Linked DNA regions of Homo sapiens: region 1 is linked to region 2. The links come from fine-mapping of genetic effects on gene expression. Tissue or cell type: whole blood. Region 2 holds a variant in brackets; the other region holds the start of a gene. All regions are shown on one strand. Distances are from middle to middle.

Region 1 (8,107 bases), 200 kb after region 2:
ACAGAGGTTCAGAGCGGGGAAGATCACGTTTGCTGCAGACTGCCCTCACAGCCAGCTCCTCCATCCCCAGCCTGTGCCCGCCCTCACTGGAAGGGGAGACAGCGCCGCTGAGGTTCTATTTTTACCCCCCTGCATATGCCAGCCCTTATGGCTGGCAAGAAGAGGCCCCTCCTCCCTCTCCAGAGGCAGAAAGGTGGACAGTGTTCCCACTGTCAGTATCTCCTCTTGTGGAAGGGTCGTGACCACCACTGTCACCAGCACTGCCACCAGCACCAATGCTGCCTTTGCAACATCACGATTCGTGTCACCATCACTGTCCATGTCACCACATGTCATCATCAGTGTCACCATCACTGTCAGCTTCACTAAAACTGCCACTGGCTCCAGCATGCTGGAGACCCTGGAGGCTCTTTCCGGCACCCTTCTCTGGCCAGCCCAGCGCTGCCTCAGGCTTCCCACAGTCACAGCTCCAGGGAAGAGGAGAGGACACGGAGCTGAGCCAGCCCACAAGTCACCCTGAGGCCTGGAGCTAGGGGACGGGGTCCTTTCACTCTGAGTAAACTCCCAGCACCTTCTGATCTCAGTTACAACAGCAAAGCAAGCGGCACCCCGAGGGGCCTGGCCCACGTCTCTCCCAGTTTCTTCCTCACACGTCCTCTTGAGTCCCTTCCTTAGGGCTTCCACTACTGGTCCCTGAGGGTCTCACCCTGGAATCCCCACCCGCTCTGGGGTGCAGACCCTCCTCTTCCCCCATTCAACGCACAGACACCCAGATCCGAGCAGGACTCAGAGCCCCACACTCTGCTGTAACGCGTGCAACCCAGAGCTGCCGGATGGCAGCCCCTCACAGCAGGCGCTTAGGTTTTACATTTTCTCAAGGAATCTCCTAATTCTTACAACAGCCCTGTGTTGTGGGTAAGGCAGAAATCCCCCACTGACACAAGGGGAAACTGAGACCCAGAGAGAGGAAGTGTCCCATTAGAGTTCCTCAATGGTCAAGGTGGAGTCGGCGCTGGAACCGCTGGAACCGGGGCTCCTGGTGCGTGCACCTCTGACCGCTGTCGGGTCAGCCCCGCCCACCGCACCACCTACAGGCACCGTGGTCACAGCAGCCCTGGTTCAAACCACGCCTACACAGCAGCCAGCCCACCAGAGTTCCCACATCAGGGTGTGGCCTCAGGAGGGCAGGGCTCTGGTTTTGGAGAGGCTGAGATGGGAGATGGAGAGGACTGTGAGGCTGGGCCTTTCCCTTTCAGGAAGCCAAGGCTCCTGGGCACTCCTCCCTCTCCCATCCCATCCCACCCACCCTCATCACCTTGTCTGCCCCTGGTGCCAGAGGTTATCCACCCTGCATCCAATGGAGCTTGGAAAACACCAGCCCCAGAGATTCTGTTCACTGTCTGGAGGGACCAGGGCTCCAGGAATCCGTGACACCCCCTCCCAGCTGACAGCCATCCCAGATGAGGAGGCCCAAACCCCAGTCTCGCCCCCTTTCTTGCTGCCTTAACCTTCCAAGCCCAGAAGGCCCCGCCATCCCGTCAACCTCAAGGGGCCCCAAGCAGACACCTGCTGTGTGCAAAAGACCTCGATGAGTCCACAAGCATCGACTGAGCCTGTGTGACATGCCAGGCTTCCAGGTGAACGCGACGGGGCAGGGCCTGCCCTCCTGGAACCCACAGCCTAGTGGACACTGAGCCAGCACACAAGGGCGTCTGGGACATCCTAGGGCTCTTCCTCCACCTTCGGCTCACCCTAGACCTCCTGAATCTGAATGTGCATTTCATTAAGGAAGCCCCAGTGAGAAGGGCTGCTAGAGAAGAACTTGGAATTCTGCTTTCTATCTTGGCAGCCCTGGGCAGCCACACTCCTGTCTTCCCCCTCACCTGCCCAGATTCAAATCTCAGGCCTGGCTTTGCCTTGTGCTCTGGAGCTGTGGGTCTCAACACAGAGGGCTTCATATGGAATGAAGCTAGGCTGAGACCGGGACCTGTGCACCCGGAGCTTTCTGGCGACCAGCCTTCCATCTGCTCCACACCTCCCAGAGAAAGGCGGGCCTTGGAGGGCACAATCTAATTGCTGGGCCCTGCCCTGCAAGGCCCACAGCCAAGACACACACACCCCTCCCAACCAGAAGCCAAGTCCTCTGCTGCCTCCCGGACACTGGCACCTACCCTCGGGGTGGCAGCTCCCAGATCCAGGCGTCAGGGAGGGCCCGAGAGCAGACACAGGCGACGCTGTGCCATCTTCTCATCCGCACCATCCCATCTGCCAAACATGGAGTGCCCACAGTCCCCCCCTGCCAGAGGATGGATGGCAAAGTGCTTTTGAAGAGGAGGAAGAGGGAAATAAGCCACACACACGGAAGCGAAAAATTACCGAGGAACACAGCCCCTCTCCCCCTCGCCCTTCGTGCCACCCCCATTAGTCCACCATTTTCCACACCGGGACACCCCCCGGCCACCTCCCGCGGGGCCCTCTCCCAGTCTGACAACGCCCCCAGCCCAGGCACTGAAAGGAAACCGATCATGAAAACCACCAGACTCTGTTCCCCAGCTGCGAAGAAGCTGCCAGCACTGGGAACCAGAGACAAGCCTTTGGCCTTCGTGTGCCTACCTTCTGCCCCCCGCCGGGAAGAAAAAGCACATCCCTCATCCCAGACAGAAGCTTAGAGGCAAGAGTGTCCAGAGGGCCAGGCAGGAGGCTGGGGACAGATGCAGCTGCTCAGGCTAGGACAGAGCTAGGGTGGGCTGCCTGGGGTGCAGGTGGGAGACCTTCTCTCACAACCCACCCCCAAGACAGCAGGCAGCCCAGAGGTCCAGCAGGTACAGACTCCCCTGCCACAAGGCCACAACAACAGCACAGACAGGAGCATCACACACACAAACACGCAGACACAAGCACACACAGACACAGAAGGCCAGAAGTGCAGACAGGCAGCTGCCCACATGCACAGGCACACACCTCACACACGGTCACACGGACTGGCAGTCACAGCCACACACACACGCCTGCACACACAGGCTCAAACGCGCACACACACACTTACACATAATCCCAGACACGCACACACATACATGGGAACCTGCGGACACAGAGACACACACATTCAACTGCAGTCACACTCATGCTATCCACCTCCCCACGGGCAGCCGGCGCAGACCTCCAGGATTCGCCAGCAGATTGTGCCCAGGGACAGTGGGGAAGGCTTACGGTCTCTGATGTCCCCACCAGGATCCTGCATCTCGACCTGCCAGGGCGTCAGCAGACCCAGCTCTCAGGCACAGCCCGAGCCCCTCTGTTCCCACGGCCGCCAATGCACTTAACAAGACTTCACTTCTAAGTTCTCTCCCATCATTCCCCCACCCTCCCACCTGTCACCCACCATCCGAAGCCCCCAAAGGAGACACTGCGCTTCCGGCCAAACATGGTTGTGGCTGCAGAGCCCGGGGTCCCAGCGATGTCCCAACGACGTCCCCGGGGCTGTCCGCAAGAGGGCCGTGGTACAGCGGGGTCAGTGCCGGTGCAGGGCGGGGAGCCCAGCGTGGCACCTCCCTCTTCGCCTGCCCCCAACCCGAGCTTCCTGTGGGTGAGGCTGCAGAGCTGGGAGGTGTGTCCTGCACTCCAGGAGGCACCAAGATAGGCCGAGGAGGTTGTGGAGGGCAGCTTCCCCACACCCAGAGGAACCCACAGCTCCGGAAGGGGCTCGGCTGGCAGATTGCTCCACAGCCCCAGTTAGCAGCCCGGCCCACACAGCCCCAGCTTCCTGGAACCCAAAGGCGCCCCAAGGATTCCCACAGCCACGCCTAGGAGGGACAGAAAGATTCAGCTGGAAGCCTCAGGGACGCCTGAGCACTGGGGACCTTCACACCCACTCCCGAGGGCTGCCTGAGACAGGGACCTTTGCCTGCCTGCCCCACCATGGCTCGGCACACGCCAGAGGAACCAGCCACACACATGTCATTCCACTAGCACACGTGGATGTAAGTATACATGCACACGCATGGGCACAGGGGCACGTGGGATGCACACATGGACACACACACGCCCAGGATACCCAGGTACACACAGATACATGCACGCAGACATACGTATCATTAGACACCTGTACACACCTGAGCACAGCGCGGCACACACGCTCCCGTGCACATCCACACACCACTTCACACAGGCATCAGTAGACACACCTGCACACGCTTCTCACATACTGACAAAGCCCCATTGGACACGTGCACAGACATGAACGCATACACATGTGCCCGCAGGCACTCATCCACATACTCAGACCACATCACACTGCAAGGGGCATTCGCATGTACACACACATGGGCACAGAGCTGTACCTGTCAGCCGCCCCCCACCCCCGCCGCCAAGTGTCTAGACAGAGGTCAGAGCAGTGGCATGCTTCACGCTGGCTGTGTGGGGTGGGGGGGCGGTACCCATGTGCGGGTGGATTTGTCTTCCCAGCTGAACCGCAGGGTTCGTCCTCATCTCTGCATGCTCAGGTGCTGGTCCTCATGCCACAGGGCTAGCGTGTCCTGCACGCATCCCAGTCTGCACACCACAGGGCCAGTGCTCATCTCTGCACGCACTGGTGCTGACCACACCTGGTACACAGCAGGCACTTACTAATGGCAGCCCCTCAAAGGGATGTGGCACGTACACTACAACAGACACTGGGGGGAGTGGGCACAGATAGGGCCCCAGGCCCCACCCTACCCCCAAGCAGTGGAGAAAGGGAAGAAAACGTCTCAAAAAAAAAAAAAGAAGAAGAAGAAAGGCCGGGTGTGGCGGCTCACACCTGTAATCCCAGCACTTTGGGAGGCCAACGCGGGTGGATCACCTGAGGTCAGGAGTTCGAGACCAGCCTGGCCAACATGGTGAAACCCCATCTCTACTAAAAATACAAAAATGAGCCAGGCATGATGGCAGGTACCTATAATCCCAGCTACTCTGGAGGCTGAGGCAGGAGAATCGTTTGAACCTGGGAGGCAGAGGTTGCAGTGAGCCAAGATCATGCTGTTGTACTCCAGCCTGTGCAACAAAGAGCAAAACTCCATCTCAAAAAAAAAAAAAAAAAAAAAAAGGAAAAAAACGGCCCTAGCTGGTGCCATTGGCCTCTCTCTCTGGCCAACCCTCCCTGAAATTTCCTCTCTGGCACCTGCTGCCACTGTGAAGGTCCTAGACTCCGTGCTGAGGTGCCAGGGGCCAACCCCAGCTTGTGGACGAAGGGTACAAGGATTTCTATTTTCTTGACTCCTTCACAGCAGGGGACAGCACAGGGGCCTCAAGCCCTGAGTGGGCTGGGGGAGCAGCTTCAGGGTCCTGGGCCAGAGCAGGGCTGGGGGCTGACTCTCTACCTCCAAGGCAGCTAGTCCCCAGCAGGAGCCCGGAGGCTTCCCCCAACCCTCACCTCTGCCCCAGGAAAGTTAGGATTGTGTGGTTCATGCTCTGGGGTGGCTTCAGGCTGCTGGCTTCCCACAGGATGGCCACTGCAGAGTGCCACAAGCGCCTCTCTCCCCAGAGGCACCCACCCACACCCAGGAAGTGCTCAACAGGTACCGTGGACAACTTGGGTCCTGCCTGCCCTGCCTCCATCTGAGAAGAACCCTCTGCACTCAATCCACCTCCAGGGTCAGGAGTGGGCACCTGACCAGGCCTGGCCAGCCAAGGGGACTGGTTCAGGAGACCTAAGTAAACCCAACAAGACACCATCCCAAGAGGCTTCCCCTGCTGAAGCATGAGATGAAAGCCTGGGGCTGTGGAGAGTGTGGGGAAAATGAAACCGACTCACAGGAAGGCAGAGAAGAGAACTGACAGAGAAAGGGAAAGAGGAGAAAGATCATGTCTTTTTTTTTTTTTTTTTTGAAGAGTCTCGCTCTGTCACCCAGGCTGGAGTGCAGTGGCACGGCTCACTGCAACCTCCACCTCCCTGGTTCAAGTGATTCCCCTGCCTCAGCCTCCCACATATCTGTTTACAGGCGCCCGCCACCACGCCCAGCTAATTTTTGTGTTTTTAGTAGAGACAGGGTTTCACCATGTTGGCCAGGCTAGTCTCGAACTCCTGACCTCCGGTGATCCACCCGTCTCAGCCTCCCAAAGTGCTGGGATTCCAGGCGGGAGCCACCACACCCGGCCAAAAGATTGAGTCTCAAGGGCATCATCTGAGCTCCAGGATCCGGCTGTGCCAGGAACCAGCTGACCCCGGGTATAGGAGAGCCAGCCGTACGAATAAAGAGTTATTCCTAAAGCCAGTATGAGTTGGATTTCTTTCATTCTCCATTAATAAAGTCCCAACTAAAGAAAAGAGCTTGACAAGTGAACAAGTGAAAGTGGGAACAGTCAGCCCACCTGGCCTCCCGCCGCTGACAGCAACACCTGCTCTAGGCCAAGCACCATGCTGGGTGCAGAAAGCACCAGGGTGAGCCAGGTACAGCCCACAGCCTCAGTTGGGAGGTGCTGGGGTTGGAGGTGTTGCATACGTTGCAAGAATTCCTGTTGCAGGCCGGGTGCAGTGGTTCACGCCTGTAATCCCAACACTTTGGGAGACCGAGGCAGGGAGATCACCTGAGGTCAGGAGTTCGAGACCAGCCTGGCCAACATGGTGAAACCCTGTCTTTACTAAAAGTACAAAAATTAGCCGGGCGTCGTGGCACATGCCTGTATTCCCAGCTACTCAGGAGGCTGAGACAGGAGAATCGCTTGAACCTGGGAGGCAGAGGTTGCAGTGAGCCAAGATCACGCCACTGCACTCCAGCCTGGGCGACAAGAGCGAAACTCTATCTCAAAAAAAAAAAAAAAAATCCTGTTGCAAATTACTTTTTTAAAAAATCAGTTAGAGGGAGTTAATGACAGGCCCATCTTTGGAGTATACGTTGATGCGCTTTCATACATGAGAGAGAAGCGGGGTGATAGTCACATCACACTTGGGCACGCCTCACCACCCACACTGACCACATGTGAAAGCTGCCCGCCGCATGCATTCTAGGGGAAGACAAAGCTGACAGATGCTTTTATCTGGGGCCTCCCGGTCTATGGAGACAGCCAGGTAAATGCCCAGCTATGAACACCTGGACCAAGTGTTCCCAGAGCCGGGACAGACTCCGGCCCAGGCACAGACATCTGAACGGCAGCCTGGAGACAGGGAAGGGGTGCGTTTCGAGGCCTCCGCTGCTGCCACCCTGAGGCTGGTTTCCCCCACCGGGGGGTGTGCCCCTGACAGCCACAAACAACACTCCTGAGTCAGACACCCGGCCAAGGAGCAGGACTGGCCCGGCTGCCGGCCCTGCAGAACCCACAGCCTGGACTTCTTCGATGCCGCTGGGATCCAGGAACCTTGGAGAAACCAGGAGGATCCAGGGGCCCACACGTCCCCAGACTGAGGGCTGGAAAGGGGGAAGGGACTCTCCCAGACGGCTCATGGCCCATCATGAGCCCTGCAGGGTGTGAGAGTCTTCCTAGGGCCTTTCCCACGCTGCCTTCCTCTCCTTCCTTGGGGCCCAGCGACCTTGGGCAAGTTACCTAATCTCTCCAGGCCTCAGTTTTCTCTTCTGTAATTTGGGGAGGCTGCCACCACCTTCACGAGTTTATCAGCAAACAGAAACACTGAGCACGGGGCTCCAAGGCCGTCACGGGAGCTGCTATCATTACTGTCAAGGACGATTCTGTCCCTGCTTCAGTCCCGCGCAGCTTCTTGACCCCCTGCTCTGACCCTGTGATTCCTCTTCCATGTGCCGTGCACAGCAAGGAGACTGTGGGCTCCCTGGGAAGGATTGTGAGTCAAGAGACAAGGGAAGCGGCCAGGCGCACTGTCTCACGCCTGTAATCCCAGCACTTTGGGAAGCCGAGGCAAGCGGATCACCTGAGGTCAGGAGTTCAAGACCAGCCTGGCCAACATGGTGAAACCCCACCTCTACTAAAAACACAAAAATTAGCCAGGCATGGTGGCGGGCACCTGTAATCACAGCTCCTCGGAAGGCTGAGGCAGGAGAATCGTTTGAGCCTGGGAGGCGGAGGTTTCAGTGAGCCAAGACCGTGACATTGCACTCCAGCCTGGGTGACAGAGTGAGACTCCATCTCAAAAAAAAAAAAAAAAAAAAGAGAGAAAAGG
Region 2 (8,107 bases):
CTGATTCTGTTACCTCCACGAGCCCCATTCCAGCCTGGAGCTTGGCGCACAGTAGGCACTGAGTAAGTCAACTTGCTTCAACCAACACTTGAATCGAGCAGCTGTTTGAAGTGAATGCCCATTTCACTCAAAGCAGGTGATCCTATAGCCTTCAAGAAATGGGCTGGGCACAGTGGCTCACGCCTATAATCCCAGGACTTTGGGAGGCAGAGGCAGGCAGATCACTTGGGGTCAGGAGTTCGAGACCAGCCTGGCCAACATGGAGAAACCCCGTCTCTACTAAAAATACAAAAAATTAGCTGGGCATGGTGGCAGGAGCCTGCAATCCCAGCTACTTGGGAGGCTGAGGCAGGAGAGTCACTTGAACCTGGGAGGCAGAGGTTGCAGTGAGCCGAGACTGCACCACTGCACTCCAGCCTGGGCAACAGAGCAAGACTCTGTCTCAAAAAGAAAAGAAAAGAAAATAAATGCTCACACCATGTCTTCGCCAGCTTCAGCTAAAACTGCTCAATGGCAGGGACACATGAGCCTGGGCATGAAGGAATCAGCCTCAACAGGAGGGGGTTGCTATTGGGTTTCTGTTGCTTGTTTTGTTTTATTTTGTTTTGTTCTGTTTTTTTTTTTTTTTAGAGACAGGGTCTCGCTATGTTGCCCAGGCTGGTCTTGAACTTCTGGCCTCAAACAATCCTCCTGCCTCTGCCTCCCAAAGCGCTAGAATTACAGGCGTACGCCACCGTGCCCAGCCTCTTTTTATTTTCTTCTGACGATTCACATCACATTTTAAAAGCTGACGTGAATTTTGCACTTAACTGAGTTGAACTGCTGTGGCCTCATGAACCCCAGGAATCAGGATGGGCTGAAATTATTTGACGGGAAACATTTTCAGGCCTCATGGTTACCCATTGGCAATCACAGGCTCATCTTTCCTCCCCCTTAGAACAGTGGTTCCTGATATTTTGCGGAGCAGGGAGCGCTTTGAGAATTTAAGGTATGGCCTCTCTTTTCAGGAATCCAAGGAAAGGCACAAATTCAGCATTTTGCATTTATCTGCAGGGAGTCAGAGACTGCCTAACCCTTGCCTTGAAAGCCTGCCTCAGTCCAACGCCCTTGAGTCCCATGCCCGCCACAGCACTGTGATACCAAGAGACTGTTGCCCAAGAGGTGGAGATTCTTTCTCGTGGAGCAGAGGAGGGAGGGTCAGAGATCCAGCCATGAGGAGTGGGGAGCGGGGGACTGCAGGGGCAATGAGCTGCCCTGTCTCGCTGTCATCTGCACCGGTGAGGATTTCGAGCCATCTGACAGACCCGTGACTGCTTGGGAGGTTCAGACCCAGGTGCTTGCGTATCTGCCTCCCTGGAGGTCTTTAAATTAAGATCCATCATTTGTCCAAAACAGCCAGGCCAGGGCCTTACCCAGTGGCCAGGGTCTACCAGGCCCCTCCTCTCCACCCTCACCATCAACATTTTTTTCTTTTTTTCCTTCGTTAGCACCCTTCTATCGCTACCCTTTCCTGCTCGTCCTTTCCACGCTCTTTCTTTATTCCAGCTCTGCCTTACTCGAGCAAATGGCATCACCAAATTCCAAATACTACACTCACAGCGAGCAAATGGCATCACCAAATTCCAAATACTACACTCACAGCGAGCAAATGGCATCACCAAATTCCAAATACTACACTCACAGCGAGCAAATGGCATTACCAAATTCCAAATACTACACTCACAGCGAGCAAATGGCATCACCAAATTCCAAATACTACACTCACAGCGAGCAAATGGCATCACCAAATTCCAAATACTACACTCACACCTCCTCAATCCTCAAGTGAGATGCCATTGAGCCCGGAGGCAGCAAGGGGGATCAGGTGGCCTTGGAAGGTCCTCCCTACCCAGAATCTAGCTCCAAACCCCAGAAACCTGCAAACTCATGGAGAATCTCTGACTGCTGAGGACTAGTGTCCTCTGATATCACAGCATCCACACAGGGTGAGGTGTCGAGGCCCACCACTCCCTCCAACAAGGCGTTCTCCTTACCTTGTAGGATGGGGTCTCTGTGCCTGGGGTCTCGACCTGCACGACGATGTAGGCATGTAAGAAATTGGAGGCTATCATGTCTGGGACAAACGGCGTGTTTTCCTCTTGGAAGATGATGGCCACGATGTCATTTCCAATGTGTCTCTTTCTCTGGAGCTAAATAAAAAGTGTTGAGAGGTTATAAGCCAGTTAGGAAAATCATGAAAGATGTTTTGGGGAAAGAGTGGGTTCACTTTCCTTTGCACACAGGAAAACTGAATTCTGAGTGAGAAGAGTTCGTGGTTGTTGTTTTGGAAGTTTAAGTATGAAAGCACAGTACCAATGCCAGGCAGCAAGGGGAGAAGTGCATGGAACACGCTTCGTGCTTTGTGTATCTTTTGAGTTGCTTTCCTATTTGGGGAAAACCAGGGGGGTTCTTCTTTCAATCTTTTTTTTTTCTTTTTTTTTTTTTTTTGAGACAGGGTCTCACTGTGTTGCCCAGGCTGGAGTGCCGTGGCACGATCTCGGCTCACTGCAACCTCCGCCTCCTGGGTTCAAGTGATTCTCCCACCTTAGCCTCCCGAGTAGCTGGGATTACAGACGCGTGACACTACACCCACTAATTTCTGTATTTTTTGGTAGAGACGAGGTTTCACCATGTTGGCCAGGCTGGTCTTAAACTCCTGACCAGCCCGCCTCAGCCTCCCAAAGTGCTGGGATGATAGGCATAAGCCACTGTGCCCAACCTTCTTTCAATCTTTAGAAGCCACCAAAAAGGAAAAAAAAAATGGGGAAGATGGCCAAGTCGTTAGGTAGAGGCTAGCGAGCATCTTACTGACCTCTACAGCATGCAGATCCCTGACTCAGGACTTGGCAAGAATATTTAAAAGGCAAGGCGGGGTCTTGCCCTGGTAGAGCCTGTCATTGATCTGGGAGAAATACAAACACAGGTGAAGCCACCTGAGAAAACTAACAAAGCCACCAGCCAGCAAGGGCTAAGTCAGCTGCTGTGCATGAAATCCCTGACAGCTCTGGAGACAGAGGCAAGGGCAAAATTACAGGGCTGGAAAGCAACCTGAGAGGGCTTCCTGGAGGAGGAGACGTGTCAGGGGGTCTTGAAGGTGTGAATGAGAGTGATGAGGTGGCAGATCATGACAGCACTGCTCACCCAGCTTGGCGTAGGTGGGATGGAAGGAGGATCCCAACCATAACTCCATATCCCAAGCAGGGCCAGGTGCTTCTGGGTGTGATCTCGGCCACCAAGCACCTGGTGTGTCCCTGGAACCATGTTGGGCTGTTCATGCATGATATCAAATGTTAACCCTGTCCTGAAGTTCAAGGCCGCGGTGAGCTATGATCGCACCACTGCACTCCAGCCTGGGTGAGAGAGTGACAGCCCTCCTCACACACACACAAAAACCCGCTCCTGTATGTCGAGTCCTGGCTAGGTGCCTGTCTATGCATTTGTTCCTTTGTTAAGCACCCACTGCATGCAGGCCCAATGCTCAGTCCCTTCACACTGAGTTTCTCATTCACTGAGCACCTGTTTTACACCAAGCACTGTGCTGGGCACTTTCACACAAATTGCCTCACTTACTCCACGCGCATCTTTCCATTTCTCAGGAAGAGAAACTTAATATTTACTCAGTCCCCGCCAAGAGCCGAGCCCTGTGCCAAGGTGTATTTCCCAAGAAACACACATAAGACTGAGAAGGCCCAGAGAGAACAGGCCTCAGGCCCAGGCCGGGGCAGCAGGTGAGAGAGGCCATAAGGGAACAGAGGGGCTGGAGGTGAAAGGTTGAATGAAAACCCACTTTGGATACAAAAGGATTTCTGCTTCCATTTGTTTCTGGAACATTCAGTAGCTATTTTAGAGCCAACTCATCATCTCGTTTGCCAATTTCCTTCTTTCCTAAGAAGCCAGGCACTATGTTTACAATTTTACATCTGTGCTCCCTCCCCAGTTCCTGCTCAGAGACACACAGGTCAGAGTTTGGGCAAAGGCCTGCCTGCATTTTCTTATTTTCCCAGACTGAAAAGGGGCAGAAGGCAGGCTGGGGGAACTGGGCTTGTAACAGCCAGGAACCAGCCGCGGCTCTCCCCAGGGATGCACGGCTGTCAGAGCAGCAAACGGGGGGCACGGCAGGAAAGCAGTGGGGACAGGGGTCTCGTCCAGGTCTCCCTAGTGGAGGTCAAGGCTGAATTCCCACAGGTGTGGTGAGAGAGGAGCCTGTGAGATGAGGAAGGCTGGGGGTGGGGAAGGATTCTCACGCAATAACCAGCCTTCCGTCACTGGGGCAGGAAGGGGGACAAAATGACCAGGGGCTGGACAGTGAACAGCTGTTCTATAGGAAGCCAGCCATGAATTGGGCATCGTATGAACCCTAGTCAGAAATGTATGTAATCCCCACAATCACCCTCTACCATGGGTGGTGTTACCCC[CCA/A]TTTTATAGATGAGAAGGTTAACTGGCTTGCCCAGAGTCACACGCTCCAAAGTGGCACAGGCGGCTTCAGGCCCCCATCTGCAAACCCCACCATGCACCCTTTGCCACCACCCTCTATGACCAGGGCCCCCAGGCTCTGCCCTGGGCTCTGCCCCTGATAAACGGAGAAACCTCAAGGAAGTCTTGTCACCACCATGGGCTGCAGTTTTCCCATCAGTCAACGTGGAAGAAACACAAGCTCTGCCCCGCCTCCCGCCCAGGGCCCCTGAGGTGTGGCCTCGGCCAGAAACACAACAGAACGGACCGCTGAGGCACAGCCTCGGCCAGAAACACAGCAGAACGGACTGTGACGCTGCTGCGCAGCTGAACGAATGGCCGGCTACGGGAACGAATATGGGGACGGCCACAGCCTCTTAGCAGGTCAGACCAGAGGCAGGCCCTCACCTCGCCCGCCCTGGGCTCCCAAAGCCCTCCCAAACCAGGTTACCTGCTGGGCGTCTCCGTCGGTAAATGGCAGCTTTGTGGAAACGTGAAACATGATCTCCCTGTCCCGGAATGTTGTGTACACTGATTCCACCCCTGTCTGTCCGTGGGTCACGTCCAGGCCTCCTCGGAAACTGTCAACAAAACAGGGCAGGAGATGGGGAGAAAAGAGAGTGAGGCAAAGTGGGCAACTTAATGCAAGCTCCCCTAAGTATACGCAGCAGAGGATACGCAGCAGAGGAGACAGGAGAGCTGAGGGCAGAGCAGGCTGTGATGTGGGAAAAGCAGGTAGATCTGTTCTTCCAGGTATATCAGCGCTGGCACTCTACCCACAAACCCATTATTTAGACAAAGCTGGCCGGGCGCAGTGGCTCACGCCTGTCATCCCAGCACTTTGGGAGGCCGAGGCAGGCAGATCACCTGAGGTCAGGAGTTCGAGACCAGCCTGGCCAACATGGTGAAACCCCCGTCTCTACTAAAAATACAAAAGTTAGCCAGATATGGTGGTGCATGCCTATAATCCCAGCTACTCAGGAGGCTGAAGCAGGAGAATCGCTTGAACCCAGGAGGTGGAGGTTGCAGTGAGCCGAGATGGCGCCACTGCACTCCAGCCTGGGCAACAAGAGCAAGACTCCATCAATCAATCAATCAACCAATCAATCACAAAGCAGAACCTCCATCTCAAGCCTTGGCTGTGCCGTGTCCACACTTGCTGGTTATATGGGAAGGAAGCGCATCCATCCACAATCCCAGACAAATGCCCATCCCCGGTGCCATTCCCCCAAGGTGGGGCGCCGGCCTTTCTTTGCTCTCTGCAAGGCCATGTCCAAGTCCTCTGCCCAGAGCTAGGGCAGCCAGCCATCCTGGTGGCTGGTGGGGAGCCCCAGAGGAGCATCTGGAGTCAGTCAGAAGAGGTGGCAGATGCTCAACTTCTGCCTAGCTAGTCCCTAAGATACAGGCCCAACCACTGCAGCATCCCGCTTGGGAGTATCCAGGGAAGTCCCTTCTCTGGCTGTCTCCTCACAGGCAAGAAAGAAAAGCTCTAAGGAACTGGGTGGGCTTCCAGGAGTTGTCCCTTCTGCCTTTATACACACGGCTGCCAGCTTTGATCACAGTCTTCAGCAGATGCAGGTTCCTTTAAGAAAATGAAATAAGATGGACCTAGAATCTCAGCATCCCCAACACTACAATACAAGCCAGAAAATGTGCCCAGGCTGGCATGGCAGAAAGAATGCTGGACAGGGGGCAGGAGCTCCGGGTTCTAGACCTGCTTCTGCCACTAAATCAGCACGTGATCGTGGACAATTCATTTAGTCTCTCTAGGCCTCCATAAAATAAAGGGATAGAATTTCATAACTCTGAGGACCTTCTGGGCTTACTATACTGTATTTCAGCTATTCTAAGGCCCACGTTTAGTTTTGGTTTCAGTCAGGGGTTCACTCTGTCATCCAGGCTGGAGCGCAATGGTGTAATCATGGCTGACTGCAGCCTCAACCTCCTGGGCTCAAGCGATCCTCCTCGCCTCAGCCTGCCAAGTAGCGGGGACCACAGGAGCACACCACAATAGTCAGCTAATTTTTATAATTTTTCAAATTTTTGTTAATGACAGGGTCTCACCATGTTGCCCAGGCTGGTCTCAAACTCCTGGGCTCAAGCGATCCACCCGCCTCGGCCTCCCAAAGTGCTGGGCTTACAGGTGAGACCCACCATGCCTGGCCGTTTTTTCACATTTTAAAGTCACAGGATGTGTCTTATAATGATAGCATCTCAAAGTCAATGGAAGGTGGCAATATAAGAACAATAACAATCGTGACTAGCTAGCCCTGAACAGCACTTAAGTGTTTCGTGAGCATTATCTTATCTTTTATTTTTTATTTATTTATTTATTTTTTTTTTTTTAGACAGAGTCTCACTCTGTTACCCAGGCTGGAGTACAATGGCACAATCTCAGCTCACTGCAGCCTCCATCTCCTGGGTTCAAGCGATTCTCCTGCCTCAGCCTCCCAAGTAGCTGGGACTACAGGCACGTGCCACCACGCCCGGCTAATTTTTCGTATTTTTAGTAGAGACGTGGTTTCACCATGTTGGCCAAGATGGTCTCAATCTCCTGACCTCGTGATCTGCCCGCCTCAGCCTCCCAAAGTGCTGGGGTTATAGGCGTGAGCCACCACGCTCAGCCCATTATCTTATTTTAATCCCCCCAAAACCTTTTAGGGCTGACACTATCTTTACCTCCTTTTTTTTTTTTTTTGACAGAGTCTCCCTCTATTGACCAGGCTGAAGTGCACTGGCGCAATCTCAGCTCATTGCAACCACTGCCTTTTGGGTTCAAGCGATTCTCCTGCCTCAGCCTCCCAAGTAGCTGGGACGACAGGCACCTGCCACCATGCCTGCCTAATTTTTTTTTTTTTTTTTTGTATTTTTAGTAGAGACGGGGTTTCACCATATTGGCCAGGCTGGTCTCAAACTCCTGACCTCGTGATCCACCCACCTCGGCCTCCCAAAGTGCTGGGATTACAGGCGTGAGCCACTGAGCCCAGCCCTTTATCTCGCTTTTTACAGTGAGGAAACTGAGGCTTATAGAGGTCAAGTCACTTATCCAAAGTCACAGAGCTAATAAGTGATGGAGCGGGGGTTTTATCCCAGGTGTGACTGACCCCAGACAGCCGTGATGACCTTGAGGGAGGGAGAAGATGGAGGAAGAGAGGAAAGGAAAAAGAAGGAAGGACAGAGAAGGAAGCAGAGGAAGAAAGCAATTAGTGAATATCCGCTGTGTGCCAGGCACTGGGCTAGGTATTTTCACACGATGTGAGGAGCTCATGTCAATCTGGCTGCTGGGATGGAGAATTCTGGGGCCTGGAGCCATCTGCCAGCCACCAAGGACAAAACAGGCTGGCCAGGTCTGGACTCATCCCAAATGCGGTCTTGGCCAAGGAAAGTCAAGGGCCAGAGTTTTCCAAGCAACGGCCCCAATGTTCTATCTTACTGCCCACTTAAAAAAGCATAGACTGAGCCAGGCACGGTGGCTCACGCCTGTAATCCCAGCACTTTGGGAGGCCCAGACGGGCGGATCATGAGGTCAGGAGATCGAGACCATCCTGGCTAGCATGGTGAAACCCCGTCTCTACCAAAAATACAAAAATTAGCCAGGCATGGTGGCGCGCGCCT

Evidence for each region. PIP is the estimated chance that this variant, and not a neighbour inherited with it, causes the effect.
Region 1: RAP1GAP2 starts here. The variant in region 2 is fine-mapped to the expression of RAP1GAP2 in whole blood (TOPMed, PIP 0.97).

What each region holds. Positions count from the first base shown.
Region 1 is chr17:2,791,847-2,799,953 of GRCh38, reverse strand. RAP1GAP2 (RAP1 GTPase activating protein 2) reads right to left here and starts at 3,516. Exons shown (of 25, transcript NM_015085.5): 1 at 3,383-3,516. The coding sequence starts at 3,426. RefSeq lists an enhancer at 7,050-7,289.
Region 2 is chr17:2,992,303-3,000,409 of GRCh38, reverse strand. RAP1GAP2 (RAP1 GTPase activating protein 2) reads right to left here. Exons shown (of 25, transcript NM_015085.5): 13 at 4,944-5,073; 14 at 2,034-2,189. Among named protein-coding and RNA genes, the nearest start is that of RAP1GAP2-AS1, 30 kb to the right of the region's middle. RefSeq lists an enhancer at 4,706-5,206 and a silencer at 5,456-5,632. The variant CCA/A (reference allele first, on the strand shown) is at 4,455.